Regions from separate parts of the Homo sapiens genome. Here region 2 is linked to region 1. The links come from fine-mapping of genetic effects on gene expression. A gene starts in region 1. The other region holds a variant in brackets. All regions are shown on one strand. Distances are from middle to middle.

Region 1 (2,500 bases):
ACTCGGATCCCGCTCGCTCTCTGCTTGCTCGCTCGGCGCGGCGCTGGGGGAGGCGGGAGCGTGAGTCACGGCGACTCCCGATTTAGGTGCCGGAAGGGGGGCTCTGCTGGCGGGGGCCGCAGGGAGGAGGCTCGCCTGTTTACTCGCCTGAAAAGGGCACGGGGGTGCGCTCCGCGGCTACCTGGGACCTTCCTCAGTTTACCTCTGGCAGAAGCGCTTTAGAAGAGGCAGCGATGTATAGAGCGGTGGGCCGGCAGCTGCGGTATCCGCCACAGGGTGTCTTCCTGGAGCCACAAGGGAACCAATGGGACACACCCCAGAAACACCCCAGAGGCCCCAGGCCGACCACACACATACACTCACGCACACGCACACACTAACATACATAGACGTCCTCCGACACTACAGTCAGACGACAGAGGCCGAATCGCGTGCACAACTCCGCAAGCACACACCGACCACAAACGCATCCAAGCGCTTGAGAACACATTCACAGTCCCCAGGCCACCTGAAAAAAGACCACGTAGGGATGCACATCCTCCAAATAGGTAGCACATGTGCGCACACATCCTTCACCCACAGACACACACAGTTATACACACAGCCAAATCCAGAGAAACGGGCAGACAACAGCAGCCAACCACGTGCGCACACACACTTCCAGCCGACACTGAAAACACAGACAACCCTCGGAAGAGGCCACGTGCGCGCACATCCCGCCCCGGGCCCGCACCATCACTATCCTCCGACGCACAGACAGGAGATCCCACACACTCTGCCGCCGCCCGCTGCAGGTACCGCGCCGGTGGCACTAGGACCACTCCTCAAAAACTGCCCCCCGCCAGGGGTAGCGGCGAGGACACGCCAACACCGGACTCCGCCCTCGCCATGATGGACCGACTGACTGACACTCTGGCAACCAGTCCGGTGTCTGCTTCCAGATCGGATTAACCGTTTAACTCCTTCGTGCCTGTGCGCGCCGCGGCCAAGCAGGGTGCTTTGAAGACAGACGAGTTCCAGCGCCCCCTCCCAGCCCGGAGCGGGGATCTGCGTGGGCGGGAAGGGCCCCCCTCCTTAGGTAGCTGCCCCCCGCTGGCCCGGACGGAGGAGGAGGGGGGCGGCGCTGACAGCCGCGGCGGGCGGGGGGCGGGGAGGGGCGGGACGGGGCGGAGGAGCCGGGGCTGGCGCCGAGCGGGCCGCGGAACGCGGAGCGCGGAGCGCGGAGAGCGCCGCCGGGCACTGAGCAGAGCTCCAGGCGCCGAAAGGAAGCTGCAGAGCCCGGCCCGGGGGCGATTGGCCCGCAGCGCCCCCGGGTCTGTCCCCGGGGCGCCATGGCCCTACCGCGGCCGGGCGCACCCGCGGGGCCCTGGGCTCGCTGGCTTGCGCGCAGCTGAGCGGGGTGTAGGTTGGAAGGGCCAGGGCCCCCTGGGGCGCAAGTGGGGGCCGGCGCCATGGAACCCCCGACCGTCCCCTCGGAAAGGAGCCTGTCTCTGTCACTGCCCGGGCCCCGGGAGGGCCAGGCCACCCTGAAGCCTCCCCCGCAGCACCTGTGGCGGCAGCCTCGGACCCCCATCCGTATCCAGCAGCGCGGCTACTCCGACAGCGCGGAGCGCGCCGAGCGGGAGCGGCAGCCGCACCGGCCCATAGAGCGCGCCGATGCCATGGACACCAGCGACCGGCCCGGCCTGCGCACGACCCGCATGTCCTGGCCCTCGTCCTTCCATGGCACTGGCACCGGCAGCGGCGGCGCGGGCGGAGGCAGCAGCAGGCGGTAAGACTCCCCGCGGCGGATGCGCGCGGAACGGATGGGCGCGCAGGGAGGAGGCAACTCGAGCTGCCGGCCGCAGGGGGCGCTAGGATGCGGGTGGGGTCGGTTTGGCTGGCGGGGGCGGAGGGAATTCGGCTGCGGGGGCGTCTGGGACCTGGCCCCTGGTTGTGCGCTCTACGGGAGGCTTCCTGCTGAAGCCCATCCTGGGGTCCATTTAGGGGGCGCCACGCTGCGCGTGGTGTTAACGAGGTCTGGGTTGGGGAAGGGGGCTGCACACTTAGGGGTCTGTATTCTTGGTGACAGTGCAGAACAGCTGCTAAGCTGGGAACCACTTGGAGGGACCTTCCTGGGGGCACTATACTGAGGGCTAGATTCGCAGTGTTTGGGGTACTCTTGGAGCACTCCATAAGGGGGTGCCTGCTAGGACCAGGATCTTTACTTCAGGGTGGGGTGCTCTCAGGGTCCTTCTAGGGGATGGAGGACTCTATTGCGGGGATGTTAGTGGACTCCTCCTGCAGCAGCTGGGGTCAGAAATCCAGAGGGTGCCTCTTGGGGGAGCACTGTTTTGGGAGCCTTGCGTTAGATTGGAGTTCCCCTCTCAGGGCAAGAGTGTTAGCGTTAAGTAGCTGTTCAGAGGCAGGAAACAGTGGAGGGGGGGCGCAGTCCCAGCACAGAGGGAAGGAGTCCCTGACTGCAGAGGTGACAGCATAGTGAGGGTGCATGTGTGTTGAG
Region 2 (3,003 bases), 69 kb after region 1:
AGGGAGGAAAATCGCTTGAACCTGCCAGGTGGAGGTTGCAGTGAGCCGAGATCGAGCCATTGCACTCCAGCATGGGCAACGAAAGTGAAACTCCATCTCAAAAAAAAATTAGCTAGGCGTGGTGGCACGTGCCTGTATTCCCAGCTACTCAGGAGGCTGAGACAGGAGAATCACTTGAACCTGGGAAGCAGAGGTTGCAGTGAGCCAAGATTGCGCCATTGCACTCCAGCCTGGGCAACATGAGCAAAACTCTGTCTCAAAAAAATAAAATAAAATAAAATAAAAATAAACAAAAACATTAAGCTGGGCGCGGTGGCTCACACCTGTAATCCCAGCACTTTGGGAGGCTGAGGTGGGCAGATCACCTGAGGTCAGGCGTTCAAGACCAGCCTGACCAACATGGTGAAACCCCATCTCTACTAAAATACAAAAATTAGCTGGGCATAGTGGCAGGCGCCTGTAATCTCAGCTACTTGGGAGGCTGATGGGGGAGAATCACTTGAAACCAGGAGGCGGAGGTTGCAGTGAGCTGAGATCGTGCCATTGCACTCCAGCCTGGCAACAGACTGAGACTCTGTCTCAAAAAACAAAACAAAACAAAACAAAACAAAAAACAAAACAGGCCGGGCGCGGTGGCTCATGCCTCTAATCCTAGCACTTTGGGAGGCCGAGGCAGGTGGATCACGAGGTCAGGAGTTCGAGACCATCCTGGCCAACATGGTGAAACCCTGTCTCTACTAAAATACAAAAAATTAGCCTGGTGTGGTGGCATGTGCCTGTAGTCGCAGCTACTCAGGAGGCTGAGACAGGAGAATCGCTTGAACCCAGGAGGTGGAGGTTGCAGTGAGCTGAGATCATGCCATTGCACTCCAGCCTGGGCAACACTGTGAGACACCATCTCAAAAGAAAAAAAACATTAGCCGGGTGTGGTGGTGCGCGCCTGTGGTCCCTGCTACTTGGGAGGCTGAGGCAGGAGGATGGCTGGAGCCCAGGCTGTTGAGGCTCCAGCGAGCTGTGATCACACCACTGCACTCCAGCTGGGCAACAGAGCGAGACCTTGTTTCTAAAAAAAAAAAAAAAAAAAAAAAAAAGGAAAGCAAAAGCAAAAGCAGTCCACAAAAGATGGGCTAGTCAGGACTCTTCCCCGCCCCCAGGGCCTCACCAAGGACGTAGATTCTCCCCTGGTGGACAGTGATCCCCAGGGCACTTCGCCGGTGCTTCATGGGGGCTACGAAAGTCCACGTCTCTGTTTCCACATCGTAGCGCTCCACGCTGTTCAGCTGGTCCTGACCATCATAGCCCCCAGCAGCATAGATACAGTTGTGCAGGACGCAGACGCCTAAAGGGCACCATGCAGAGAAGGTGACTCTGGGGGTCTGGCTTTGGGAACCCCAGCCATCACCTCCTTGAGGGAGACCTTTCCTCTCTCCTCTCCCTTCTCACCCTCAGAAATGAAGCGGGGAGAGAGAGAAGCTTGGACTCTATCAGAATCCAGGGCTTCTGTGGTTACCCCAGCATGAGGGTTGCAACAGGGGGTCTCTCCCAGGCCTGGCTCAGTTTCACCCCAGGATGGTAGGGGGTGTTCCTGGGTGCTCCCCTCCCTACCGTCCCCACCCACCTGCCCCGCTTCGGATGGTGTTCATTGCTGTGATCATTCGCCACTCGTTCCTCTCTGGGTAGTAACACTCAGCTGAATTAAGGCGGTTTGTCCC[G/A]TCAAAGCCCCCCACGGCATAAAGGAGACGATTGAGGACAGCCACGCCCACCCCGATCCTTCGTGTCAGCATTGGGGCCACCAAGTGCCACTCATCCCGCTCTGGCTCATACCTGCAAGGGCGTAAGAAAAATGGGGACAATGGCCATTATAGCTGACCTTCGTGGAATACTTAAGGGCCAGATACTCTTTTTTTTCCTTTTTTTTTTCCCCCTTAAAGAGACAGGTTCATCCGGCGCGATGGCTCATGCCTGTAATCCCAGCACTTTGGGAGGCCGAGGAGGGCGGATCACCTGAGCTCAGGAGTTTGAGACCAGCCTGGCCAACATGGTAAAAACCTGTCTCTACTAAAAGTACAAAAATTAGCTGGGTGTGATGGCAGATGCCTGTAATCCCAGCTACTCGGGAGGCTGAGGCGAGATAATCACTTGAACCTGGGAGGCGGAGGTTGCAGCGAGCTGAGATCATGCCACTGCACTCCAACCTGGGCAACAGAGCGAGACTCCATCTCAAAAAAAAAAAAAGAAAAAAAGAGACAGGGTCTTGCTCCGTTGTCCAGGCTGGAGTGCAGTGGTGCAATCACTGAAGCTTCAAACTTTTTTTTTTTTTTTTTTTTTGAGATGGAGTGCAATGGTGAGAGCATGGCTCACTGCAACCTCCACCTCCTGGGTTCAAGCAGTTATTCAGCCTCAGCCTCACAAGTAGCTGGGATAACAGGCACCCACCACCACGCCCGGCTAATTTTTGTATTTTTAGTAGAAATTGGGTTTCGCCATGTTGGCCAGGCTGGTCTCAAACACCTGACCTCAAGTGATCTGCCTGCCTCAGCTTTCCAAAGGGCTGGGATTATAGGCATGAGCCACCACACCCAGCCTGCAGCTATCAACTCTTGGGCTCAAGGAACCCTCCTGGCTCAGCCTCCTGAGTAGCTGGGACTACAGGTGCACACCACCGTGCCCACCTCCACTCGAACTCTAGTGCTTGCAGTTGTTCTCCAAGGATTGAGGTATCAGCAACTCCATTTTCCAAATGACAAAACTGAGCCTCCTAGCCATCAATTGCTCAAGTTCAAAAACACATCTGATAAACCCCTAGTGGCTCAGCCAGATCCCCCACTTCACAGATAACAAGATAACATCTCAGAAAGGAGAAATCACACATTCAGCATCACTCTTTGATGCTCAAAGAGTCCTTTAGGTCCGGCACAGTGGCTCACACCTGTAATCGCAGCACTTTGGGAGGTTGAGGTGGGAGAATCCCTTGAGGACAGGAGTTCAAGACCAGCCTGGCCA

What was found. PIP is the estimated chance that this variant, and not a neighbour inherited with it, causes the effect. A credible set is the group of variants that fine-mapping cannot tell apart.
Region 2: its variant is the best candidate, but not a certain one, in a credible set for the expression of PDE4A in liver (GTEx, PIP 0.72).

What each region holds. Positions count from the first base shown.
Region 1 is chr19:10,419,314-10,421,813 of GRCh38, forward strand. It overlaps PDE4A (phosphodiesterase 4A), which reads left to right and starts at 1,225. Exons shown (of 15, transcript NM_001111307.2): 1 at 1,225-1,771. The coding sequence starts at 1,452. RefSeq lists enhancers at 18-897, 2,078-2,267 and silencers at 1,118-1,587, 1,818-1,867.
Region 2 is chr19:10,488,030-10,491,032 of GRCh38, forward strand. KEAP1 (kelch like ECH associated protein 1) reads right to left here. Exons shown (of 6, transcript NM_203500.2): 4 at 1,619-1,824; 5 at 1,163-1,339. Among named protein-coding and RNA genes, the nearest start is that of KEAP1, 14 kb to the right of the region's middle. The variant G/A (reference allele first, on the strand shown) is at 1,713.